4 linked regions of the Homo sapiens genome follow. The protein of the gene in region 1 purifies or fractionates together with the protein of each later gene. This does not show direct contact. Each region holds a gene or a part of one and is shown on either strand. Other genes may lie near its edges.

The links.
Region 2: the proteins of EWSR1 (region 1) and DDX17 purify together in Homo sapiens (affinity purification with mass spectrometry; 3 studies listed by BioGRID, with this or other methods). This does not show direct contact.
Region 3: the proteins of EWSR1 (region 1) and HNRNPM purify together in Homo sapiens (affinity purification with mass spectrometry; 2 studies listed by BioGRID, with this or other methods). This does not show direct contact.
Region 4: the proteins of EWSR1 (region 1) and HNRNPUL1 purify together in Homo sapiens (affinity purification with mass spectrometry; 2 studies listed by BioGRID, with this or other methods). This does not show direct contact.

Annotation. Positions count from the first base shown.
Region 1 is NC_000022.11:29,271,268-29,278,295, forward strand, and holds part of EWSR1 (RNA-binding protein EWS), read left to right. Parts: intron 1-948; coding exon 949-985; intron 986-1,112; coding exon 1,113-1,164; intron 1,165-2,470; coding exon of another isoform or gene 2,471-2,473; coding exon 2,474-2,597; intron 2,598-2,997; coding exon of another isoform or gene 2,998-3,015; intron 3,016-6,762; coding exon 6,763-6,949; intron 6,950-7,028. UniProt on the Homo sapiens protein: Binds to ssRNA containing the consensus sequence 5'-AGGUAA-3'. Might normally function as a transcriptional repressor. EWS-fusion-proteins (EFPS) may play a role in the tumorigenic process.
Region 2 is NC_000022.11:38,482,931-38,489,332, reverse strand, and holds the end of DDX17 (probable ATP-dependent RNA helicase DDX17 isoform 1 precursor), read left to right. Parts: intron 1-1,217; coding exon 1,218-1,454; coding exon of another isoform or gene 1,455-1,460; intron 1,461-2,892; coding exon 2,893-3,398; 3' UTR 3,399-5,895; downstream 5,896-6,402. UniProt on the Homo sapiens protein: As an RNA helicase, unwinds RNA and alters RNA structures through ATP binding and hydrolysis.
Region 3 is NC_000019.10:8,482,968-8,489,635, forward strand, and holds the end of HNRNPM (heterogeneous nuclear ribonucleoprotein M), read left to right. Parts: intron 1-190; coding exon 191-244; intron 245-2,635; coding exon 2,636-3,438; intron 3,439-4,056; coding exon 4,057-4,108; intron 4,109-5,723; coding exon 5,724-5,887; 3' UTR 5,888-6,147; downstream 6,148-6,668. UniProt on the Homo sapiens protein: Pre-mRNA binding protein in vivo, binds avidly to poly(G) and poly(U) RNA homopolymers in vitro. Involved in splicing.
Region 4 is NC_000019.10:41,274,346-41,281,373, forward strand, and holds part of HNRNPUL1 (heterogeneous nuclear ribonucleoprotein U-like protein 1), read left to right. Parts: intron 1-1,813; coding exon 1,814-1,953; intron 1,954-4,731; coding exon 4,732-4,831; intron 4,832-6,817; coding exon 6,818-6,930; intron 6,931-7,028.

The sequences.
Region 1 (7,028 bases):
ACTGCCTTTAAAAAAAAACTAAATTTATCTAACTTTAATGCAGTAGCGCTCTGAAAACTATTTTCCGTTTGTTTTTACTACTTGTAGACACCTCAGTGGACCAGTTTTTGGTCCCTTTGGATGCATGTTATAAATTTCATAGGAAAAGGAAAATTATAGGGAGGTTTACTTAGATAAGGGATGAAAATTCATGTCTTTTTTTTAAGTTGAAATCATTTTGAGTTGTATGAAAGACAATGGTGTTACCAAATTTTTCCCAGAAAGACTAAATGCTTTTTCTTCTTTGCCAGTCTTCAGGGTTCTGCCTTAGCTCTGCTTCACCAGGGTTTATAATATATCTAGCTTTTAAGTTGCTGCACAAATATAGTTCTGACACAGCAAACCCTTTAAAACACTGGAGTGTGGTGACTGCCTTCTTGTCTGCCATTCCGTTTCACTGTCGTTGAGCTAGGGAATGATGGTTTGTCTAACTTGCTAAAGTGAGGGGAGTGAAAACTAATTTTTGAGGAGAGGTAGGTTCTAACGTAACCAATCTAGTGTTAAACTTTGTATTATTGTTGCATGCCTCCGTTTTATATGAGGGTAGAAACTTCTGATCCTGTTAGTAGATCTTGTTGTCAGTCTGTGATATTGATGATCATCCTGTATTTTAAATGACAGTTGGGATTGGGATGGGTTTTGTGGTCATGGGAACATAAAAAGTATACCTGCCAAATCAGCTGATCTTGACCTCATTAGCTAGTCCCACAGTCAAATGTTGAGTTTAACTGGTTTAGACTTTTTTTTCTGTTAGATGTTGAGAGGTAAGGGGGACTCATTTGGACCTGTGTTGGCAGGTCTCCCTACAGTTTAAAGAATTCTTCCTGCCACGTGAATTCTTTCCCCCTTTTTTCTCTTCTCCTTGTTTCTGCTAACTTTACACTATTTTTCCTCCTTGTTTTCCTCTAGATTACAGTACCTATAGCCAAGCTGCAGCGCAGCAGGGGTAAGTCAGTCTTTTATAACCGTATTTTGTGTGTGATTAATATTTTTTGAATATGGAGCCTTCTATAATTGTAGAGGTGGTATTTGAATGTTCTCTATTCAAGTTATTGCATTTAATTCTTTTGCAGCTACAGTGCTTACACCGCCCAGCCCACTCAAGGATATGCACAGACCACCCAGGTAATCTTTAAAATAATTACATGTAGCTGCACCTCCAAGTAAAATCAGTATATTATCCAGTTATCTTTCAGTTATCCAGTAAAACAAATGAGTAATGTGTTTGGAATAGTAAAATACCCAGGCATTTTAAACTTTCACAGTGGGAGTGCGAAGGACTCCATTGTGCCATCATAAATGAAACCATTCAGAAGCTGATAATTGACTCTTTATAACTTTTTAATATGATTTCTCAAGTTAGGTGCCCTGTTCCATGCTTGGTCCTTCTTCATTATGTTTAAATTTAGTGAATTTATTCATCATAGCAATTCTGCAAAGGAAGAGGATGATATGACCATTCTGCAGAGGAGAACATTGCAGTGCATAGATATTAAGTAACTTGCCAGTGGTTGCACAGTAAGTGGCGGGGTTAGCTCTAAAAACTGGCGACCTAGCCAAGGAGCTGCTGAGCTCTTTCCAGTGAAGAGTCTGTTGAAAAGCCTAGGCCAACAGATTCTAGAAATTAGCCTTCTAGTGTTTTCAAGATAATGTTGAATTCTGAAATGATCCATGCCATAAAATGGATACTAATAACTGCCATGGAAACATGTTCTAGGACAAGCAGAATGTGATGTCTCTGGCAGATCTTACATAACTGGTCATTTAAACAAACCTAGAGAATAATCATGCTAATATCTGAAAGAACAACTCTTCCTTGCCTGATTTTAAGTATTATGGATGTCTAAGTTCAAAAGACAGTACTCTTGATGTGCCCACCATAAGAGGACATACAGCGTTCTGGTTCATTTTCTTTGAAGTGGTATAGTAGTTTTAAAGTCTTTTTGTCAGGCTGAAAATCTGGTTTTCAATTTTTTCTGACAGATTTTAGCCCTCTTCATTGCTTTCTCTGTTCATTTGTCTTCGTACCTTTTGTTTCCAATCACTAAAACTGTGCTACGCTAAGTGCTAGCAGTTAATACACCTGTGCCCTTATTGCTCTTCCCTTGAGAGTGTCTTGTTAATCTCATGTATAGTTAACTGAGGTTTTGCCTGATTATCTTTTTTTTCCCCCTTTTGAGAAGCTGTGAATGACATTGCCTACTTACCTAATGAGCTTTTTCCGTAGCTAACTTTACCATAATATGAGTGAACCAGATAAGGGATAACATTCATGATACTGTGATTATTTGTCTTGTTTTGTTGTTTTTGTTTTGTTTTTTTAATCTTCTAGAAAGGAATGTTTTTGATTTTGGTTCTCCAATTTAGTCCATTTTATTGCTAAAATACAAAAGTTCATGTATGAAGTTCTTGCATTCGTTTTTTTTTGGAGCAGGCATATGGGCAACAAAGCTATGGAACCTATGGACAGCCCACTGATGTCAGCTATACCCAGGCTCAGACCACTGCAACCTATGGGCAGACCGCCTATGCAACTTCTTATGGACAGCCTCCCACTGGTAAGGCCTGCCTTGGAGAGATTTTTGGGTCGTTCTGGCTAGGGCATTGGCTAAGAAGCTTATTAGTCATGCTTTCGGATGTATATTCTGGTCCATACCTTGGCATCTGGGGAATCCTTTATTCTTAGGAAGAGGTATTTTTTCTCTTTCTTCCCTACTCTTATAGTCTTGAGAGATCTCCAATAGAATGTGGGTGGGATAAATTCCAAGAGAGAAAAGAACTTTTAACTGTTTGAATAATCTCACGATGAAATGGAGACTATGTAAAAGATTTTGCTAATGCTAATACTGAGTAAGAATGAGTCTTCTTAAATTGAGCTGCTTAAAAATCAAACTGGTTTTCACATGTTTGCTTCATCTGATAGTGTACCCTCTACTTTTTGTTTTGTGCTTTCCACAGTAGAAGGGACCAGTACAGGTTTGACTATCCTGCTCATTCTTGCATGGGAAATGCTTTCCATCTTGTCTAACCCTGTAATGTTAATCCTTTAGGTGTTTTCATTTGTTGAACCCCCAAACTTTCTAACATCACACACAGCAAGGTGCTAATGAAAAACTGCTTCAGGTGCCATTTGCAGATCCATGTCCTATTCTTTATATGATTTTGGGAAAGGTTTTTTTATTTAATATTACTTTGTTTCAAGCCTTAATAATAGTTATTTACCTTCCCAAAGGTATTTCAGGTGATTTCTCCCCAGCTGATTTTCCCCTGTTCCCTGAAGGATAGATTGCATGATGAGATTTATTTAGAGGAGCAGACTGCCACCCTGCATGTATCATGTTTGTCTATTGGTTGGTTTCTAGTCCAGACACATTTTATTTTCTGTTTTAAGTGTTATGAATTATTTTAATCCATGGTATGTCTTGAATATATATAACATTATTCCAAGATACTAAAAAATAAACTATTCTAAGAATTAGAAGAAATTGTATTCCGATACTGAGGTTGGGTGGGATACATGAAAAACCTATGATAATTTTTTTGTGTTCAGTGCTGTGTAATGTTTCAGGCTGTCTCCCCCTGCCCTTTTATTATTGCTGTTATAAAAGACTCTAATAAAGTCTTAAAGATATCAGAGCTCTTATTTTCAAACTGTCTTTAGTTCTCCAAATTATATATAGTCCAGTTAAGGGGAAAAACCTGTCTGTAATTTATCTCATTGAGTACCAGTGTCCTGATTTTGATGGGAAGTAATTCCTAACCTCTTCTAGGGTGTTTCTCAAATAGGATGGGAAATGTTTATCTAAACTTTCTAGTGGTGTTAATTGCAGCTGTGGGAAGAGCTGGAACTAAGGTTATGCAGTTTGGATTTTTTAGCATAGAATTTTGAAATTGTGAGATAAACTTCATGTATTAAAGCCATTACATTTTTTAAAACAAGCATGATGTGAAAGTTAATGTGGCCTAGATCTAGCCTTCCGAATCCTTAGATCATTTTACAGGAATGAGACGGAGTGATTTATAGGCAAATTAATGGTTCTCTAGAGCCATGTATCACATTGTCGTTGGTTGAGAAATCCCCATCATGACTGTGGGCCTAAAAAGTACAGGTCATTCTAGTTTAGAGACTAGTAGCTTTGATGAGCTGGAGATTGCACTTAGTAATAATAATGTTTGTATAAAATTCACAGTTTATAGAGTGGCCTTCTTGTCTCCCTTAATCCTCCCAAGAACTTTTGGGGTATAAAAACACCAAAATTAAGCCTGATGAGCAAACTGTGTGAACAAAACTTAGCAGGAGCCTAATTGGTAGTGCGTGGGTTCAAGCACACATGCTGCATTTTTCCTTACCTCATACTGCCTTTACACATGAAAGTTATCGGATAGTCATTGGAGGGAATACATAGAAATACACTGTTCTCTTCTAGGATTTTTAAAAATTAAACTTCAGAAGAAAGGGGTTATATAAACCTCAATTCAATGGAATTCTTAAAAACTTCTTAATTTTTACGTTGAACAAAAGTTTTGGTTTGTGTAATATTTCTTACCACCTTTTTCCTTCAAGTTGTCAGCACATAGTAGGTGTGTTTTCTTTTTTTGCCACTGGTCTTTTGTTTTTTTGTTTTTTTGTTTTTTTTTTGGTCATTAAATCATTTTGCTCTGTTGATTTTTGTTCATTTTGCTTGGCTGCTTTTGTGGGTACTACAGATTAATTAAAAGGTTATTTATTAACCCAGTGTCTATTGCTGTAATCTTTAGCATGACAAGGCCCTAACTGTTGCTGCATAGTTTTATGACATGAGTTATTGCCCTGATCACTTTTAGTTTTTTGTTTTTTTAATTGCCCTCCTTGTAAATCTTATAGACGTGTCATGTAGTGGGGTGTAATCGGTATATGAACGGTAGGGTAGATGGTATTAGATTCTAATTTAAATAAATGAATGCCTTATGTGGTTGACCTTAGGACTCTGCAAAAACTTAAGCAGTTCAGATGAACAACATGCCAACTCAAAAACTTTTATTGCTTGGGGCTTCCTGTTTTCTGGAACTATGTATACTTTCATACACATTTTAACTCAGCAGTTTTGACAAGGACATTACTATCTCTGTGTATAATTTCAGAATTTCCTTTTAATATTTGAGGTAGAGAAGAAAGAGTATTATTATATTCTGTGCTACAAATGGTGATTGTACAAAAGGAAGCTGATACTTGTTTCTGGCCAGTACATGAGGACACTTTAAGGCCCTAAATCTTAACTAAAATGGGCAGTCTTGATTCAGGATTTATTTTAAATATGGAAGCTTTTTCTTTAGTGAGATGTAGACTTTTTTTTTGGATATAAATGCCAGCACCTAGACCAAAGTTTTGTTTTGTTTTGTTTTTTTAAGATAGGGTCTCTGTTGCCTAGGCTGGATCTTACTGCAGCCTTGACCTCCCAGCCTCAAGCAGTCCACCCACCTCAGCCTCCCAAGTAGCTGGGACTGAAGGCTCACGCCACCATGCCCAGCTAAGTTTGTTTATTTTTTGTAGAGGCGAGGTCTCACTATATTGCCCAGGGTGGTCTCTAACTCCTAAACTCAAGCAGTCCTCCCACCTCAGCCTCCCAAAGTGTAAACCAAACTTTTTATTGCATGGCTTAATTGTACCCATTGACCATGAGGAAGAAGAGTCCAGCACCAGGAATGGTTGTAACACCTCCTACAGGAAAGGTACTCTAGTTAGGAGCTGCAGACTTTCGTGGTTTTGGTCATGCTCCACGCCGAAGTCCCGAAGGGAAAGGCATGGATCCTGCCTGGTCTGGCAGAGGCAGGAGCTAGGGATAGAATGCATCTTGCTTTGCAGCATACCTGTGAAACCAGGTTTTTTCTGACACCTGGTTAGTGAAATACTGAAGGGGAGGAGAGACTCTAGGGTTTACCTCCAATATTGCTGAGCAGGAAAAAGGCCTTTTGCTTGTGGTAGGTAAGTAAGAGGAATGGAGCTGAGTAACTTGATAACGAGGCAGGAATCTGCTTTATGATGTGAAAACATTACCTTTTAAATGTTTGTTTGGAGCAATATCGAAGTTTAATTTTAAATAATTTACAAAAAAAGGATAAACTGTGTTAAGCAACTATAATTTATAGCTTATTTTTATTAATCATGTGCTCAAGTAATTAAGCTTGTGCTTCACATGATGTTAGTGCTTGGGACCAAAAGAAAGTGATTAAATTAATTACTACCCAAATTACAGGTTTTAGTGCTAGAACTAGTACCTGGATCATTTTCTAATTATTTTAAAATGCTATGTCATTTGCCTTTTACCTTTTCTTCTGGGATGTTTTATTCCTGCTTGAGGGTATTTTGGGGTAAGTTTGTTTACAAACTTGTTAAGACGACCTGCTAGCAAAATCAGTACAGACTTGGCAAAAACAGACTTGTCTCCTATTCACAGCATTCAAGAGGGGGCAGAAGGAACCCTGTTTTCTGTAGCATGACATGCCATTTCTGTTAGGTGTGGTTTTAGAGCAAATGAGACAGTTACTTTACCAAAAACTAGGTACATTCAGAGAACTTAGGCTTTAAATACCAGTTTGTTGCTACTCTTGCGGAAGGGGGAATATTTAAAGGGATTCAATATCCTGATGGTTTAAAGTAAGTGGTTTACAAATTGTTCTGATAATGAGTGTCTAGGCAGATCTCTGAGGGGACCTGAAATCTGATGCAGCTCTCCTTTGTTCTAGGTTATACTACTCCAACTGCCCCCCAGGCATACAGCCAGCCTGTCCAGGGGTATGGCACTGGTGCTTATGATACCACCACTGCTACAGTCACCACCACCCAGGCCTCCTATGCAGCTCAGTCTGCATATGGCACTCAGCCTGCTTATCCAGCCTATGGGCAGCAGCCAGCAGCCACTGCACCTACAAGGTAAGGCCATGGTGTCCTTAATGCGTCAGTCTTATGTTGGAGGGAAAGAAAGCAACTGTGTACACTTAAAATAATCTGT
Region 2 (6,402 bases), 9.2 Mb from region 1:
CCCGTGTCAGAAGGCGGAGTTTTCGAAAGGAGGCCGCCAAAAATAAAAGGCAAAGAGACGGGATCGGCTGCAGCGGTTTCCCAAAGGAGGAGGGAGTGTGCATCGGTCTGGTAACAAACAGAGAATGTTTTTTAATTATTTATATCACAAAAATCTGTGTTTTATCTAGGATATTTTCTGAATATTCTTTGTAAAATGCAGATTTTTTTCCACAAAACAGTAGGATTCTTTGTTATATTCTTAAAATTGTTTGTTTAAGTAGGTAAAAATATACATTCAGCTGAAAGCATTACACTAACATTTACATTTTAAGCCTTAGGAGGTTATTCAGCCCAATTCCCAGCAGTAGAGAGAATACTAAACTTGTGTCTCAAGGTTTCATGGTTTTCCCACGTTCTTTGGCTATTAATTTAATTTCCCAGGTCACGTAGACAATCATTGATAATTGAAACAAGTCCTGAGTTGAAATAACCTTGAGTTGAGCAAAAATATCCTCATTTTGGCAGAAGCTGGGCTTGGTAGTACAGTAAAATTTTAGTGTAATGTGCTCTTGTAATTGAAAGGGGATAGATAATCTGGATGTTTCTGCAAAGGAAAATAGGTGTGTACTTAACAGCTTTGGCTCTACTCAGTTTCTTAAAAAGATAAGAGCAAAAAAAGTTAAATGTTAATCAAAACATTTAAGTTTCCTTTAAATTGTAGTAATAAAATATATGAAGCTCCTTTTTTTACTTTGCTCTGTGACTGGTTTAAAGGTAAGTTTGTTATGTTGTTGGTAGATTTTGCCAGGCTTCTCCCAACAGAGTAGAAGTGATTTGGCCTCATAACTTCACAGTGGTTTACCACTTTGTTCTATGTTCTGGTTTTGTAAAGGATAGTACTGGAATTTGCGTCTGAAGACCAATATTGGTGTAACTCCTGTCAGTATATTGGTAAAATGTAGCAGAGGCAGGAGTTTGGATGTTTGGATGGGATTCCCTTAGGATTCTACAGCCAATAAAGATCCTATTTCCTATGCATGTCCCAGGAATCAGTAATCCTCTTTTACTCTGTTGGGATGAGTCTTTTTTTGTTTCTGTTCAGAGTGGTTACTAACTTCACCTTCTTTCCTCTTGCTGTCATCTGCATTCGTGCTTCCCACCTGTTGTTGGCATGTCCTTTACCTTCTCTTTCCCTGCCACATCAACCTACACACTGACTCATCATTGACGTGGAAGATGTGGAAGATGTCAAGTTTGTGATCAACTATGACTATCCAAACAGCTCAGAGGATTATGTGCACCGTATTGGCCGAACAGCCCGTAGCACCAACAAGGGTACCGCCTATACCTTCTTCACCCCAGGGAACCTAAAACAGGCCAGAGAGCTTATCAAAGTGCTGGAAGAGGCCAATCAGGCTATCAATCCAAAACTGATGCAGCTTGTGGACCACAGAGGAGGCGGCGGAGGCGGGGGTAAGGGTAAGTCCTGGAGTTTTCCAGGTACTGCCAAGGTATCTCTTTACGCCTTCTGTGACTTGCTTTTAGTTGCTGTTTTTAAGAAGGCTGTAAGTATGTTGCTTAATAGCAAAGGACACTGCCTAATGCTTTTTATAACCTTTTTCAACTAAGAAAACGTGAAGTTTGTTGTGATAGTCCTATTAGTTAAGCTAAATTGTGAATTTTTTTTTCTTAGAGACTGGTCTGAGGTTTGGTTTTGTTTGTTTGTTTGTTTTGAGACGGAGTCTTGCTCTGTCGCCCAGGCTGAAGTGCAATGGCGCGATCTCAGCTCATTGCAACCTCTGCCTCCCAGGTTCAAGTGATTCTCCTGCCTCAGCCTCCCAAGTAGCTGGGATTACAGGCACCCGCCAGCACACCCTGCTAATTTTTGTATTTTTAGTAGAGGTGGAGTTTCACCATGTTGGCCTGGCTGGTCTCGAACTCCTGACCTCTGGTGATCCACCTGTCTTGGCCTCCCAAAGTGCTGAGATTACAGGAGTGAGCCACCAAACCTAGCTGAGGCTGGTCTGTGGAGTTTCACCATGTTGGCCTGGCTGGTCTCGAACTCCTGACCTCTGGTGATCCACCTGTCTTGGCCTCCCAAAGTGCTGAGATTACAGGAGTGAGCCACCAAACCTAGCTGAGGCTGGTCTGAGTTTTAATGTGGTTGCTTTGGCGGGGCGGGGGCAGAGACAGTCTCACTCTGTTGCCCAGACTGGAGTGCAGTGGCACGATCTCGGCTCACTTCAACCTCTGCCTCCTGGGTTCAAGTGATTCTCCTGCTTCAGCCTCCCAAGTAGCTGGTACTACAGGTATGTGCCACCATGTCCAGCTAATTTTTGTATTTTTTGTAGAGACAGGGTTTCACCATGTTGGCTGGTCTTGAACTGCTGACCTCAAGTGACCCTCCTGCCTTGATCTCCCAAAGTGCTGGGATTACGAGAGTGAGCCAGTGTGCCCCCGGTCATGGTTGCTTTTTTAATACTTTCAAAAATGCTTAGTAGTATATTAGGTTTCCAGTTTTCCATACGGAGAGGTCAGTCATTTTACACTGTTTAGTGGTGGGTAGAAACTGAGACATAGCAGTTGCATCTACAGTTGCAGAATATCCTAGGATCTGGGCTTCCTGACTCAAGGTTTCATATTGTAATACCGTGTTTCTTGATCATCCTCAAGTAAGGGGCCTAAAAGGGTGAAAAGGTCTAGTGTCCTTTAATTTTTACTGTGCTTTTGAATGTGCCCCATTAAAGAATCAAATTATGAGTATATTTTTACAGTACTAATTGGGAGGCTGGCCAGCATAACTAAATATCAAGGAGACATGTTTAATACTTTTGTACCCAGTAGAATTTTTACATTGTTATGTTTAGGTCCTATATCTGCCATTAAAAATCTTCTTGTATCTTCCCATTAGGTGGTCGTTCTCGTTACCGGACCACTTCTTCAGCCAACAATCCCAATCTGATGTATCAGGATGAGTGTGACCGAAGGCTTCGAGGAGTCAAGGATGGTGGCCGGAGAGACTCTGCAAGCTATCGGGATCGTAGTGAAACCGATAGAGCTGGTTATGCTAATGGCAGTGGCTATGGAAGTCCAAATTCTGCCTTTGGAGCACAAGCAGGCCAATACACCTATGGTCAAGGCACCTATGGGGCAGCTGCTTATGGCACCAGTAGCTATACAGCTCAAGAATATGGTGCTGGCACTTATGGAGCTAGTAGCACCACCTCAACTGGGAGAAGTTCACAGAGCTCTAGCCAGCAGTTTAGTGGGATAGGCCGGTCTGGGCAGCAGCCACAGCCACTGATGTCACAACAGTTTGCACAGCCTCCGGGAGCTACCAATATGATAGGTTACATGGGGCAGACTGCCTACCAATACCCTCCTCCTCCTCCCCCTCCTCCTCCTTCACGTAAATGAAACCACTCAAGTGGTAGTGACTCCAGCAGACTTAATTACATTTTAAGGAACACTGTCTTTCCTTTTTTTTTCCTCTTCGCCTTTTCTTTTTTTTTCCTTTTTTCTTTTTTTTTTTTTAATTTTTCCCCCCAACCATCGTGATTTGTCTTTTCATGCAGATTAGTTAGAATTCACTGCCAGGTTTCTTCTGCCCACCAAAATGATCCAGTCTGGAATAACATTTTGTAAAAAAAAAAAAAATATATATATATATATATAGCTGACTGGAAGAGATTAATTTCTTCCCCCAACTTCTTGCATGTTGAAGATATTTGAGCTATTTTTCATCTAAAAGAGTAAGGTATTAGGCCCTTTTGTGGGAGCCCCATGTTTTGTTTTTCTGAGTTGGTGGGGAGGGAGGGAGGGGGAGGGCTGAATTGTTTTGCAGAGGAAGATGGCATCTGTGCTTTAAATTTCTCATTACTGGGTTAGAAAACAAAGAGGGATTGCCCTGCACATTTTCTTTTGTGCTTTTAAATGTTTCTTAAGTTGGAACAGGTTTCCTCGGGCCTGTTTTGACTGATTGCTGGAGTGCATTTGATAGTTAAAAATTACTAATTGGTTTTATTTCCCTTCACACTCTGCCTCCCCACTTCTCCCCCCGTTACTGAAAAATAACCATTTTAGTGTCAGGCTAGAAATTGAATTGCTGAGTTTTGTGTATCCTTTAAATTAAAAACCACAAGTGTTTATTGTAGTGGTTAAACTGTAGCATCTCAGCATCTGGGTGGAAGCTGCCTATATTTCTTCCCAGTTTAACTGGGGACCATCTGTGAAATTAATTTTCCATCCAGACAGCTGCTGTGAGCAAATGAACATAAATGCTCGCTGGAAATTTACTAACCAGTTTTTATATTGACCTGCAGTGTAAAAAGCACATTTAATTATAAACAATATATTCAAAATGGGCAAATTTTATTTTCAAATGCAGTGTAGAGCTAGATTAAAAGCAACTCTTTGCCACCTACTCTGCCCTTTTGGCAAAGTTACCTTGAACAAAGAATCTTAAGGGTTTATTAAGAACTCTTTATTTTCTTCATACCCTGTTCTCTGCAGTGCTTTCTAACAGCTTCTGGGTGCAGATTTTCTTCGGCATCCTTTTGCACTCAGCTTATTACAGGTAGGTAGTGCTTAAGAAAAGTCATGGAGGACTAAAGCCTAAGTCCTTTTCACTTTTCCTCCATCTGAAGGTAGGTGAGTTCATCCTCTTCATGGTAATGCTGTTTTACCAAGACTTTATAGCAGATGGACCCAGAAAGAATTTTCTGCTATTGTGTTCACTACAACAGGATAGGGACATCAGACAGCCCCAGAAACCCCTTCCAGATCTGATATGGGACTATTAATTTTTATGCTGTTAATTGGTATTCATTCACAATGCAGTTGAAGGGGGAAGGCTCCACTGCATTCTTTGGCTAAGGCCTGAATGCTTGCTCATCTGTAAGATCTATACTCGAGGTTTTGTTTTCCTTTTAAAATTCTTTAGGGAGAGAGGGATGGTTTCTGAGGGGTTCTGAAAGTATGATTCAATGTGCAACATACAGGTAGGTCTTCAGCATAAGCTGAAATATATGCATGTAAAAACTTTGACATCTTTTTTTTTAATTTTCCACTTTCTTCTTAACTTTACTTCTCTTTTTGTCCCCCCCCCATCTTACAGAAGTTGAGGCCAAGGGAGAATGGTAGGCACAGAAGAAACATGGCAAACTGCTCTGTGCTTTCAAACCAAAGTGTTCCCCCCAACCCCAAATTTGTCTAAGCACTGGCCAGTCTGTTGTGGGCATTGTTTTCTACAACCAAATTCTGGGTTTTTTTCTTCTTTCTTTAAACATAGAGGTACCACCACAAGGGATGCCCTACTCTCTCGCAGCTCTTGAAAGCATCTGTTTGAGGGAAAGGTCTCTGGGCAAGCAAGTGGTTATTTGGATTGCTTGCTTCCCTTTTTCCACCTGGGACATTGTAATCATAAAATAACAGTAAATTCCAAACCTCAAAAACTATTATGGCCTGAGCACAGCTGAAATCTAGCAGAGTTTAACTCTTCTGCCTCCATGTCTGTCACTTATAATTCAGGTTCTGCTGTTGGCTTCAGAACATGAGCAGAAGAATCGTTTTATGCTAGTTATTGCATTCATGGTTGAAACTCAACTTAGGGAAAGGGTTCCAATGTATTAAGCAATGGGCTGCTTCTCCCCAATCCTCCCTAACAATTCGTTGTGTGGACTTCTCATCTAAAAGGTTAGTGGCTTTTGCTTGGGATCAGTGCTCTCTATTGATGTTCTTGCTGGTCTCCAGACACATTCCTGTTGCATTAAGACTTGAAAGACTTGTAGATGTGTGATGTTCAGGCACAGGATGCTGAAAGCTATGTTACTATTCTTAGTTTGTAAATTGTCCTTTTGATACCATCATCTTGTTTTCTTTTTGTAGGTATAAATAAAAACACTGTTGACAATAAGGTGTGAGCTTTTATTGCTTAATTCTCTGAATAATTCAACGTAGACGTCTTAAAACAGTTTTTGTTTCAAGACAAAGATGGGGGATATTGGATTGACTGATTACTTTCGCACCTAAAACTGAAAGGAAAAAACTTAATACAAGAATTGGAATTGAAAACCCTAGCAGGATACCTAGTAGGTAAGGGTTTGGATATATCTGTATCTGCTCATAAGTAAAACAGTGATTGTGCAAATGGTACTCGCCTAAGTACCATTAGGTTATTGGTATTAAGGTACTAAGTACAAGGCAGGTATCAGCCACTGGTTTGAAAAAATTCAAACCAGTAAAAGATGAGTCACAAAACTCCTCCAGCCAAACCTGGTAAATTTGGTTTGCTTCTGGCCTGAAGGCAGTGTGAAAGTGAAATAAGTTTCACACTTAAAACTAGCTGACACCTTTATATCTTGACCACCTAAATTTGGTCATCTACCTGGAAAGTGGAAATTCACAAGAACGTACCCTAATA
Region 3 (6,668 bases), on another chromosome or scaffold:
CGTGACCCAGCATCAAGGACTCTCCTAGTTCTCTGTAAAATGATCTTGTCTGTGCGTGTGTTTCTCAAACCCCTTTCCCTTTATCTTGTCATTTTTATTAGTAGTATTTCTACTCTGGAATCTGTAATGAGCACATTTCTATTGCCATAGAGGAATTTGGCTAATTTTTTTTTCTTCCTGATTTCCTTAGAAATCCTAAGTAATGCACTGAAGAGAGGAGAGATCATTGCAAAGCAGGGAGGAGGTAGGAACCGCTTAGTTTGATGTTTTGTTTTTTTAGAACAGGCTGTTATCGCTGGGGACTGTAGAGCTTAGTGGTGAGAAGTGCGGGTTCTGACACAGACTGCCCGGGGTGGGAGCAGCTCTGCCTTTTTCTAGCTGTGTGACGTTTGGCAAGTCACTGAACCTCTCTGTTTCTCATAGCACTCATTTGTAAAATGGGGGTGTAATAGTACCTGCCTCAGGGATGCTGTGGAGAGTGAATGCATGTGAAAGAGTGCTTCCGCACGTGCTGTGCACAGGCCGACCATCTTCATTGTTAGAGTACCTCTCTTTTGGGGGTTTTGTTTTCCACATTATAAATTCCTAAAAGTAAATATATTTTCCTTAGACTTGATGATAAGACTGAAAGCACACCACCCAACAAGTAATAAATGCTTGTAAAATAGATAAATGTACTCATTAGGAAAATATGAAGAAAGTATGGTCTGAAACCCCATCGCCCAGTGATGACTGCCGGAAACATTTTGTTCTGAATCTTTCATTCATACACAGCTTTATGGATACTGAGAACAAAATGTACTTTTTGAGCATTTTTGGAGACAGTCTCGCTCTGTCTCCCAGGCTGGAGTGCCGTGGTGCAGTCTCTGCTCACTGCGGCCTCAACTTCCCAGGCCTAAGCGATTCTCCCACTTTAGCCTCCCAAGTAGCTGGGACTACAGGCGTGTGCCACCTGGTTTGGCTAATTTTTTGATTTTTTTTGTAGAGATGGCATTTTGACATGTTACCCAGGCTTATCTCAAACTCCTGGCCTCAAGTGACCTGCATACCTCCAGAGTGCTGGGATGACAGATGTGAGCCACCACACCTGGCCCAAATGTACTTTTTCAGCCTGATTTTCCCTCTGAGTATCTTGGCATCTCACCTCCTGACTTCTGTGTTGGGCTGGCTCTGGAGCTCCACGCTGGTACCATTTCCTCCCATTTCTTTTTTTTTTTTTTTTTTTGAGAGACGGAGTCTCACTCTGTCGCCCAGGCTAGAGTGCAGTGGCACGATCTCGGCTCACTGTGACCTCCGTCTCCTGGGTTCAAGCGATTCTCCTGCCTCAGCCTCCCAAGTAGCTGGGACTACGGGCGCACGCCACCATACCCAGCTAATTTTTGCAATTTTAGTAGAGATGGGGTTTCACCATGTTGGCCAGGCTGGTCGCGAACTCCTGACCTTGTTCCGCCCGCCTTGGCCTCCCAAAGTACTGGGATTACAGGCATGAGCCACCACACCCAGCTGCCCCACCTCATTTCTGATGCCTTTGGGCAAAGTGCCCATTCTCGCTAGGTTCCTTATACTGTGGGGAAGTTCTGAGACGTCTCCCCTCTGAAAGTCACACATTCTTAGAGTCGGGCCTGCTTTGGCCGCTCACTGTGTGCTGTGCAGCTAGAGAAGCAGGCGCGGTGTGGCCAGTTACAGAGCCAGTTAGAGAAACTGCCCAGTTTCCTCTTGAATTGGTATCTTTGACTAGGCTGCTTGGGTCGGTCACAGGCTGGCTCTGGGCTGATGGCCACTCTCAGAGGCAAGCGACAGGGTTTCGGGGAGGAGCCCCAAACTCGGCATGTGGAAAGGGGTGGCCTTGCTGACGGAGCCAGACCCTGCTTTCCAGAGTTGCAAGCACCACGGGTGGGGGCGTCCCTTCGTTCTGCTGACTGACCCCCAGCCGCTACCAGAGCCCACTCTGCAGTGCCATCAACATCTTCTTTCCAAAGCCAGCAAGTCATTTGGTTTCCCTGACAATAGGGTCCCCAAAAGTGGCCAGCTGTGTGCATTTGTACACAGAGGATCTCTCGGTGTGTGTTTTTTTGACCTCTGCTTGATGGTGTGGCCGAAAATCCTTTCTCTGTGCCCTGGGAGCGCTGAGGAAATGCAGCCAGAGTGGCCCCCAGCAGAGCATCCTAGAGGGACAGGCTGGGAGGGGAAGGTGGGAGTGACTCCGACTTGTCTCCACATAACTCCTGTTCATTACCCTGGGTGGCCCCCCGAGTGGGGGGTGTCCATGCCTCCCCCTGGAGCATTTCTCAGTGTCTGCTGATGGAGAAACCTCAGATGTCTCAGGAATTGACGTCCATGGTTCACAAAGCTTGTCACAGACACTAGCACCTCACAGACACACATACAGGGGTGTTCTTTAGAAGTTGTGTTATGGAAATCTCAGCTGTGGCATAGAGCAGAGAGAATGCTGGGAGGCCCCCATGTGCCCACCACACAGCTGTAGCTGTTGTCAACATTTGAGGGGTGTCTTAATGGTAAATTATGGTGGGCCTTTACCCCTGATCCATGCCCATGAGCTGAAGTGGTCTGGCGTGTTGTGCACACGCACACTCAAGTTCTTGACACCCACCTGTGTTTTGTGTCCCTGTTTCAGGTGGAGGTGGAGGAAGCGTCCCTGGGATCGAGAGGATGGGTCCTGGCATTGACCGCCTCGGGGGTGCCGGCATGGAGCGCATGGGCGCGGGCCTGGGCCACGGCATGGATCGCGTGGGCTCCGAGATCGAGCGCATGGGCCTGGTCATGGACCGCATGGGCTCCGTGGAGCGCATGGGCTCCGGCATTGAGCGCATGGGCCCGCTGGGCCTCGACCACATGGCCTCCAGCATTGAGCGCATGGGCCAGACCATGGAGCGCATTGGCTCTGGCGTGGAGCGCATGGGTGCCGGCATGGGCTTCGGCCTTGAGCGCATGGCCGCTCCCATCGACCGTGTGGGCCAGACCATTGAGCGCATGGGCTCTGGCGTGGAGCGCATGGGCCCTGCCATCGAGCGCATGGGCCTGAGCATGGAGCGCATGGTGCCCGCAGGTATGGGAGCTGGCCTGGAGCGCATGGGCCCCGTGATGGATCGCATGGCCACCGGCCTGGAGCGCATGGGCGCCAACAATCTGGAGCGGATGGGCCTGGAGCGCATGGGCGCCAACAGCCTCGAGCGCATGGGCCTGGAGCGCATGGGTGCCAACAGCCTCGAGCGCATGGGCCCTGCCATGGGCCCGGCCCTGGGCGCTGGCATTGAGCGCATGGGCCTGGCCATGGGTGGCGGTGGCGGTGCCAGCTTTGACCGTGCCATCGAGATGGAGCGTGGCAACTTCGGAGGAAGCTTCGCAGGTTCCTTTGGTGGAGCTGGAGGCCATGCTCCTGGGGTGGCCAGGAAGGCCTGCCAGATATTTGTGAGAAATGTAAGTGGCTCTTGGGGAACTTCTTGGTGGTGGTGAGCATGAGGGGACAGGGGAGGCAAAGATCAGCAGGATGAAGTCAGAGGTGGCGCCCTTCAAAGGGGACCACACCTCCTTGCCACTGTCCCAAACGTTTTATGCTAGTGGGACAAGTAAGGAATGTGAGAACTGTGGGTTCTGGAAGAGCCTGGGCTTCTCCACTGTGCTAGAATATGGAGCAGACGCTGAGCTCAGAGACTCCAGTTTCTGATTGGTTGGCTTGAAGAGGCACTATGTGTTGCACGATGGTCCAGGGAAAGAAGTGGCTGTAACGGAATTATTTTCCCCAGCTCAGCCACCCTTAGCCACTATTTAGTGACTGTGGGCTGCGCACCGCAGGCCTGAGTGTCCCATCCTGCACGGTGCTCCCACAGGCAGAGCCCCAGGGAGGGAGCTGGCTGTGCCGCTTCACAGCCTTGTCCCACATGTATCTATTAGTTTCCTGCTGATCGCCTCAGTCTGAAGGGCAGCCAGCTTCTCGGTATAGTGAGAAATCTAGCATGGCCCTCAGAGCCAGCTGCAAGGCATGCCTTAGGATTTGGTTTAATCACGCATCAGTCTCCCTTTTCTTCTCCCCTTCAGCTGCCATTCGATTTCACATGGAAGATGCTAAAGGACAAATTCAACGAGTGCGGTAAGTGTTGGGAACGGCTTTGTAGGTGCTTCCCTCGTGCTTGTTGGTGACGCAGCCGAGTCAGCAGCAAAACCTCCCTCCCAGCCCCCTCCGTCGGCTCAGGACCCATGGCCTTGCCATGTTCTGCCCACGCCAATGCTCAGGCAGGTTGTTGAGTGTCCTGTGATGTGTCACATGTTTTTCAGCTGTGTTCTCATTTCATCCTTACTTCCTTTTTTCTTTTTGAGTCTTTGAAACAAGGTAGTAGTGTCCCCATTTCACAGATGAGTCAGGCAGAGTCTTCCTTCTGAGGTTACCTGGCTTCTAGGTGGCAAGGCTAAATAAATACATCCCAGACGAGGTCGCTTTCCCCTCAGCACAGCTGGTGTGGGGCCTCGGAGAGAACACAGCCCAGCAGGTGCCATGGGGAGGCGGTGCAGGCTCTGGGCACACAGCAGCTCCTGTGAGGGTGAGGCTAAGGTCTTGTGGTTTCCTGGCACATCGGGCAACTCTTCTGGAGGGCTCTGTCTGTGGCTGAAAGCAAGTTGTCTTCCTTCCCTGCCCTCCAGGGTGAGCCCCCACCCCGCATGCACCACCTCTGTTCTTTTTAGCTAGAGGGGCCTGAGCTAGAGGTCTGGGCAGCTGCTTCCGCACTGTCCTCCCGCTTCCTGTTTCAGCAGTGGCTCCGATTTCACCACCATTGCTGCTTCTCCATGGTTCTTGGGGCAAGCCGTTGAGTCATGATCTGCCTCTTTGCTCCATTCTTCACCTCTTTCCCCACTCCTGAGTTCCCATGTTGTAGCTAGATATTCTGAAAAGGCCAGTGGGATCACAGCGCCCCCAGCCCCCACTTTTGCAATGCCTGGAGCGGCCCTGTGCCTTCAAGAGGAAGTCCAGACTCACAAGCCCCTTGAAGACCTGGTCCTATCCTCCTCCATCTCCCTCCTGTCCCAGAACCTGAGCGGCAAGTGCTGCACGTGTCCCGCAATGCTCTCGTGTGAGCCAATTACTGGCAAGTCTTCTTTCTGGTGAATTTCTGTGTAAGCTCACTCAGAACTTGCCCCTGAGGACCCCTCCACCCTACCTGCCCTGGGCCCTCTCTTAGGCACTGAGTTCCCACCTCTGGCATTGTGGCCCTACCACCTTTGGTACTCCTGGAGTAGAGCCTTTGCCCTCTAGGGCTCTGTCCACGGCGTTGACACATATCTGGATGCTTAACGGGTGCTCAAATGAATAAGTGAAACCTGCTGGCTTTCATTTGGACAGTACAGACGTGTCCATTGGATTGCGGATGGCTTTGTAACCAGGGGCGGTGGCATATCAAAAATGAAGACTTTGTAAAATGTATGGGAACTTTCTGCCTATAAAGCTGGCTTTACACTGCGCCTTCTTTTTTGAACTTCCTGAAGCGTAAAGGCGTGCATTGAATCCGCCAGGAAGGCTTTTCATGGGGCAGGGGCAGGCTCTGTTAGCAGAAGAATGGCAGTGTGGCTGAGGGGGCCGTAGTCATTGGTTCTCGCCATTGTATTCTGAGCCTTTGTGCTCTAGGCTTCAGGGCCTCTCCTTTTTGACTCTGTCCACCAAAATCTAACAAAATCGGGACTGAGTGTCGTCTCTTCTTCCCTCCCTGTCCTAGGCCACGTGCTGTACGCCGACATCAAGATGGAGAATGGGAAGTCCAAGGGGTGTGGCGTGGTTAAGTTCGAGTCGCCAGAGGTGGCCGAGAGAGCCTGCCGGATGATGAATGGCATGAAGCTGAGTGGCCGAGAGATTGACGTTCGAATTGATAGAAACGCTTAAGCAGTTGCCTTTTTTAAACATCGATACGAGACCTCTGAATTTGTATTTTTTCTTGTTAACCATTTTAATTTGTTGGCTGGATGTATAAAGATGTTTAAAAAATTCAGTTGCTTTTTGGGGTAATTTGAATTACTTTTTTAATGACTGGGGTTCCATTTGACTGTTTGCATTGAGATTGCAATGTGCGCAATTTTTTTTGTAGTTGTGGCATCTTGTTGACATCGAATATGACTTTGATAATAAATACCGGTTCCTGAAAACGGCCTGCTTGTGTGTGCTGTGTGGGCAACCACGCGAGGTGTGGGGAGCTGGGGTCACTCGAGCTTCCAGTCCAAGCAGCAGGGATCTCATCCCCTCTCTTGCTTGTCTGAGGCCCCAGGGGTGGGTGCCTGCCCACAGATGGGGGGAGACTCTTCCCTGGAAACTGCCTTCCTGTGGGCTGTAATCCCCCGGCTTACAATGGAGCGTTTGGCTGTTTAGAGCCTTCTGAGGCCAGGCGCGGTGGTTCATGGCTGTAGTCCCAGCTACTCAGGAGGCTGAGGCAGGAGAATCACTCGAACCCAGGAGGCGGAGGTTGCAGTGAGTGAGATCGCGCCACTGCACTCCAGCCTGGGCAACAGAGCAAGACTCCGTCTCAAAAAAAAAAAAAAAAAAGCCCCCCGAAAGCCATCCTGTCTCCCTGTTGTGAAGTTAACGCCCTGGGGCACAGGCCCTGCCTGAGTCAGGCTTGTTCTCTGGCTTTTTTTTTTTCCTGCTGAAACAGACCAAACTGTGTGCCACC
Region 4 (7,028 bases), on another chromosome or scaffold:
TATAGGAGCAATCTGGAAAACCCTGAACCGCCCTGTACACACAGGGGTTGTCATCTAATCAGGAAGGGAATCTGAGTGCAGCTGGGGAAACTTAACTCTTTGACAACCAGTTCCCGTTTCCATCAGCTGCTCAAGTTCCTGGTGAAACCAATGCCACTGTGTCCTGTGAGGCACTAACCTGGCCCGCCCTGCTGTCTGTCCTCCAGTTCAGTTTTCTTTCCACTGGATAAGTGGCTTTCACCTTCACTGTGCATCTGAGCATTTGGAGGAATTATTATAAAGGTCCTTTCGCTCAGACCTCCTAGTCAAGAGTCTAAGTGGTCGAGCCTATGAATCTAAATTTTTACATGCACCCAGAAGCCCAATCAGGTCTGAGAACACTGCACTTCTCAACAGAGCAGAAGATAAGCAGCAATTTATTCATCTATTTCTACAGAAGCTTCTGTTTATAAAGCACTGGCTACATGCTTTAGTAAGAGATAAAAATATACACAATCTCTAATATCACAAGCTCTCGAAAACAACATCTACCCAGAGTAGAGGTAAACATTGTTTAAAAAGTGTTGGGTGGCAGTGGTTCATGAGGCAGCGTCTAGATGAAATGCAAATGTACAGATCATGACGGTCAGCCTTTAGAGAAAGGAGAGCGCCTCATGGGAGGGATGGTCAGGAAAGGCTTTCTTGGAGGCGTGACTGGCTCCTTGAATATTGAGAATATTGAGAAGGGTAAGAGCAACAGTAGGAGAGTCCTAGGCCCATGAAAGGAATTAGGAGCCTATGGGGCACCTGGGCATTGGTTCCTGGGTGGCAGGTGTGGATCAGGGTCAGATCCCTGTATAGCTATTGGAAACAGAAGTCCGGTTCCCAAATTGATAGAATTACCACAGAGGGCGGTAGGAATATATGGTGGTGGTGATTAACCTTTTTGTATTCTAAAAACTAGTTTGAGCCTGGGTAACATGGCGAAACCCTGTCTACGAAAAATATAAAAATCACCCTGGCATGGTGGCATATCCCTGTAGTCCCAGCTGTTCAGGAGGCTGCGGTGGGAGGATGGCTTAAGCGCAGGAGAACAGAAGTTGCAGTGAGCCGAGATCATGCCTCCGTACTCCAGCCTGGGTGACAAAGCGAGACCTTGTCTCAAAAAAAAAAATTAATTTGAAACTGCTGAGGATATGGACCCTATCCCTAGCAAATACACATCCCCACCAAAGACATGTGTTGACAATTTCTGAGGATACCCCTGAAGCCCCATCCTTGGATCCCACCAGATAAAGAACCCCAGTTCCTCTCTGAGGTCATACAGGCCAATTTGCAATACTGCACATCCTCCCTACTCAAAGGGAGAGAGGTTGAGGGGTGTGCTGGTTCCTTTTGAAACTGCCCCCATGATGTGTTCACTGTGTACTCCTGGTCAGCACTTGGGGAAGTTCCCTCTGCCTGCTTCTTTCTTAGGACTTCTAAAACATCAGCCAGGCCGGGCGTGGTGGCTCACGCCTGTAATCCCAGCAGTTTGGGAGGCCGAGGCAGGTGGATCACCTGAGGTCGGGAGTTCGAGACCAGCCTGGCCAACATGGAGAAACCCTATCTCTACTAAAAAATACAAAATTAGTCAGGTGTGGTGGTGCATGCCTGTAATCCCAGCTACTCAGGAAGCTGAGGCAAGAGAATCACTTGAACCCGGGAGGCGGAGGTTGCGGTGAGCCAAGATCGCACCATTGCACTCCAGCCTGGGCAAAAAGAGTGAAACTCCGTCTCAAGAAAACAAAACAAAATAAAAACATCAGCCAACTGTGGGCATTTTCCTTCACAGATAACTGCGACCTCCACTTCAAGGTGGCCCGAGATCGGAGTAGTGGCTATCCGCTCACAATTGAGGGCTTTGCATACCTGTGGTCAGGAGCCCGTGCCAGCTATGGGGTCAGAAGGGGCCGTGTATGCTTCGAGATGAAGGTGAGTAGGAGCAAGAGAAGGGGAAGGGACAGAGAAGTCCATCCATTGTAATATCCTGATACCAGCCACCTTGGTCAGAGCTGCAACTGCAAAAGAGATTGGATTGTGCAATACCATGTCCAAGCAGACAAAACTGTGATGAACTCAAGACAACTACATCATTGCTAAATATCATATCAGAAAAGCAGGCCAACCATGCATTGCTTCATCAAGCAGATATTTCCTTGGTGAGATTTGACCCAGGTATTATGTAGTCAACCAGTGTAGTGATGACATGTTTGTAGAACTGAGAAAAGAAGTTGTTTGGAAGAAAAGTGATCTAGAAAGAATAGACTCAGATGTCACTTATTAAAGGGAGGCCAGAGGGAGAACAGGGCAAAGAACTGCCAGCTTAGGCCAGCCTCTGCTGTCATCTCTCCACAGTTCCATGTCAAGTTATGTTTATGAAAATAATAGATGCTCATGTTTAACAAAAGTTCAGACAGCACAGAAAAGTACAGGATAAAACAGGTTATTCTCGCCAGGTGTGGTGGCTTTTGCCTGTAATCCCAGCACTTTTGGGAGGCCAAGGCAGGTGGATCACAAGGTCAGGAGTTCAATACCAAACTGGCCAAGATGGTGAAACCCTGTCTACTAAAAATACAAAAAAATTAGCCGGGCATGGTGGCGGGTGCCTGCAATCCTAGCTATTCAGGAGGCTGAGGCAGAGAATTGCTTGAACCCAAGAGGCAGAGGTTGCAGTGAGCCGAGATCACGCCACTGCACTCCAGCCTGGGTGACAGAGTGAGACTCTGTCTCAAAAAAAAAAAACAAAAAAACAAAAACAAAAAAAACAAAACAGGTTATTCTCATGTCCTCTCAGTTCCCATCCTACCATCCTACTCCCTGGAGGGAACTTCTGTGTTAACAATTTCTTACCTGTGGTTTGTGTATCCAAACTTACTGATGATAGCTAATAAGTATAGAGCTCTTTGCATGCACAAGATACAGCACCAAGCTCTTTACATGGATTATCTCCATTAATCCTCACAGTACCATCTGGAAACAGGTACTGTTAGCCCCAGTTTTTAGAGGTAGAAGCTGAAACACAGAGGGTTATATTTTATTGACCACGACACCATTGATGTAAGTTGTGCATTATTTTATGTACCTCTCATAGAGAAACACTGCAACAAAATAAACTACGCAGTGTTTTCTTTTTTTGTTTGTTTGTTTTTTTGTTTTTGAGATGGAGTTTCACTCTTGTTGTCCAGGCTGGAGTGCAGTGGCGCGATCTCGGCTCACTGCAACCTCTGCCTCCCGGGTTCAAGCAATTATCCTGCCTCAGCCTCCCCAGTAGCTGGGATTACAGGCATGTGCCACCCTGCCCGGCTAATTTTTGTATTTTTAGTAGAGATGGGGTTTCTCCATGTTGATCAGGCTGGGCTTGAACTCCTGAGCTCAGGTGATCTGCCTGCCTTGGCCTCCCAAAGTGCTGGGATTACAGGCGTGAGCTGCCGCACCCAGCATACGCAGTGCTTTCTCATCACATTTATTGTAAAATGGATCCTGATTTCAGAGATTTTAAAATGTGTGTCTGAAAAGCCAGTGAGGCCACAGGTAGATACGGATATTCGGCAGTCTAGTCTTTTAATACGAAATTAAGTCAGAAGGCTTTTTTTTTTTTTTTAACTTAATACTGTATCTTGGACATTTTTCCATAGCAGTACATTAGCCCAATGTACTGCTTTGCTCCTTGTTTTTTGTTTGTTTGATTGTTTGTTTTGTTTGTTTTGTTTTGTTGACGGAGTTTCACTTGTTACCCAAGCTAGAATACAGTGGCGCAATCTCTGCTTACTGCAACGTCTCCCTCCTGGGTTCAAGCGATTCTCCTGCCTCAGCCTCCCAAGTAGCTGGGATTACAGGTGCATGACGCCACGCATGCCTAATTTTTTGTATTTTTAGTAGAGACGGGGTTTCATGATGTTGGCCAGGCTGGTCTCGAACTCCTGACCTCAGGTGATCCACCCACCTTGGCCTCCCAAAGTGCTGGGATTACAGGCTTGAGCCACCGTGCCCGGCCTACTTTGCTCTTTTTAACTGTTGCATCATATTTTGTGGCATGGATATACCATAATCAGTGCTTTATTGATATTTTTTCTGATGTTAAAATATATATATATATATATATGTGCACATATATACATCCAATGCTGCACAGAATGTTGCATATACAAATACAGTCACACATACGTAGACATACTTGTCCACATATTAGTGTATCTATAGGATGCTGAGTTATAGAGCATGTGCATTTATGGGGTTTTGTTGTTTTTTTCTTTTAATGTTTTTGTAAAGATGGGGTCTTGCTATGTTGGCCAGGCTGGTTCCTAACTCCTGGCCTCAAGCCATCCTCCTGCCTTGGCCTCCCAAAGTGTTGGGATTACAGGTGTGAGTCACCATCCCCAGCCATTTACAGTTTTGATAGAGACTTCTAGATTGCCCTCTAAAGACACTGTAACAGTTTATCTTTCTACTAGATGTTACAAGAGTCTCTTAAACTAAAACATAACCGTATTTTGAAATGCCTGTCTCTGTGGCCCTGTACTCTACTGATCCCTTTGGAGGCCCTGGCTTCGATTCGGTTCAACAGGCTTTTCAGAGCTGCTTAAACGCTTCTTCTCCAGCAAGAAAAGCCATTGCTATTTTTTAATGCCTGATATGCTTCCCTCCTATATTGGCTCATAACCTACGGCCTCCAGAGAAGCAACCCTGAGCCCTTTTGTCCTCTTTCCTCAGATCAATGAGGAAATCTCCGTGAAGCACCTTCCGTCTACAGAGCCTGACCCCCACGTGGTCCGTATCGGCTGGTCCCTGGACTCCTGCAGCACCCAGCTAGGTAAGGAGGGGTCAGCTATGCAGTCCAGAGAATAGAGTGACTGTCCCTACCCTTGGATTTTCAAGGCTCCTAAGCTTCCTTTTCCAGCGTCAGACTTAGAATAGAACTAGGCTGAAGTGGAACAGGTACAAGGATTAGGTATATGCCACTGTCTCTGTCATGCTGTATTCAACTGAGAGGACTATGGTCATGAAACAACTTTTCTGTGAAGAATCAATTCTTATCCTTCATCTTTTAGGAGAGGGTCCAAAATTCTCTTTAGGAATCTATTCCCTTTCTGTAAAAAGGATCAGTGTCTCCTGCCCTTAAACCAAGCTGCTGATAAGTTCCCAAGCTCCATTAAGTTCTGTCTGTATTTTCTGTCCGGAGCCTAACCTAGAGGAAAAAGGGGAGCAGAGACCAGTGAGGCCAGGGCTAGTTGGGAGAGGGGCAGGGGCTGCCTATTGAAAGGTTTTGAATTTTGCGGGTCCCCAGGCTTCAATGACCTTCTGGTCCCAAGTGACTGATTATTCTGACCAATGCTGACACCTCCTGCCTTCCGTTTATGATCATACAAACGTTCCAATTATGAAAATAATATGTGTTGCGTATAAGAATTCAGGCCATACAGAAAGGGAAAAATGAAAATCCTTCCTAAACCTGTGAGAGAAACTAACCAATGTTAACATTCCATTTGTAGTCTTCTGGACATTTATTTTTTTGTACATCTTTAAACTGGATCACACTAGGACTACTTTGTATAGCCTTGTTTTAATGTATGATGGGCATATTTTTGTAAATAACTGCAGCTTTTTGACTACTGCATAATTTTCCATTTTATAGTTGCATTATTTAACAAGTCCCCTTCTGTAGCTCATTTAAACTTATTGCAAATTTTTGCTGTTTTAACACTTGAGCCATTATCCTGGTCCATAATTGCCTGACCACTTAAGACTAATCTTTAAAAATAGATGATATTCTCACTCACAAGTGTTTGTTTAAAAAATATGTTCACATGGACTTAGAGAGTGGAATAATAGATAATGGAGACTCAGAAGTGTTAGGGGGTAACAAGGTGGAGGAGGATGAGAAATTGGTTAATGGGTACGATGTACATTTTTTAGGTGATGAACACCCTAAAAGCTTGACCACTATGCAATCTGTGCATGTAACAGAATTGCACATGTACCCCATAAATTGGTACCTCCTCAAAAAGGTAGATATGTTAGCACCAAAAAAAAAAAGTATACAGTTTTCATTTCCATATGTGTTAGCACTTTTTATTTAAGACTCATAAGTCATCTCATCTTATCTCTGTCTCCGTTTTGAGATGTAGGTGGTGGCAGTTGATAGGGATGGGGAAACAGCCCAGGAGGTCAAGCACCATATCCAGGGTCACATAGCTGGTTTGTAGCAGAACGAGCCCTGGCATTCATGCTTGTCGGCCCCTGCTTTTCTAACAGCATACTCTTTGGGTTCTGCCCGGAATCTCTAACTCAGGTGTCAGCCAGAGCCCTTGGGATCTCTCAGTCATATCACTTCAGCACCCAGTTCTGTAGCCTGAGGAAATCTAGTACCTTTCCCAGGGGTCAGTCCTCATGGTCTCCAGGAGCAAAATCCAGCCCCTTCACTGATTTCTACCACAAGTAGACTGGACTGAATATTGGGTGTCACAAGGAAGGGTTGCATCTCAGCATACAGCCATTCTCCTCCATCCCAACTCCTGTCTTCCTTCCTCCCTTTCTTTTCAAATTCTCCCCTCTGTGCAGAGTTATTCAGTTGAGCTCCTACTCCCAGACTGGACAATGAAACCCATCAAGCCCTCCAAGTTCTACATCATTAAGGGCTTCCTTTCACCCTTCCCCACCCCTATTTTAAAAAGGCATCTGATTAATAAAACTAGTAAAGAAAATGATTTTTTTCTTCAAAAATAAAAGTATGTGGCAGCCATTGAGGCTGTTATGACCATCGCAGGTTTAACCTGCCTTTGCCTATTTCTTCCGTCAGGCGAAGAGCCTTTCTCCTATGGCTATGGAGGCACTGGGAAGAAGTCCACCAATAGCCGGTTTGAAAACTACGGAGACAAGTTTGCAGAGAACGATGTGATTGGCTGCTTTGCGGTGAGTGCTAGCAGCCTGTGGGAGTTGGCAGAACCAGATGTTGGGCTACAGACTTCTTTTTCAGGATACCTCTATCCATTGTCTGCCCCATATCCAGC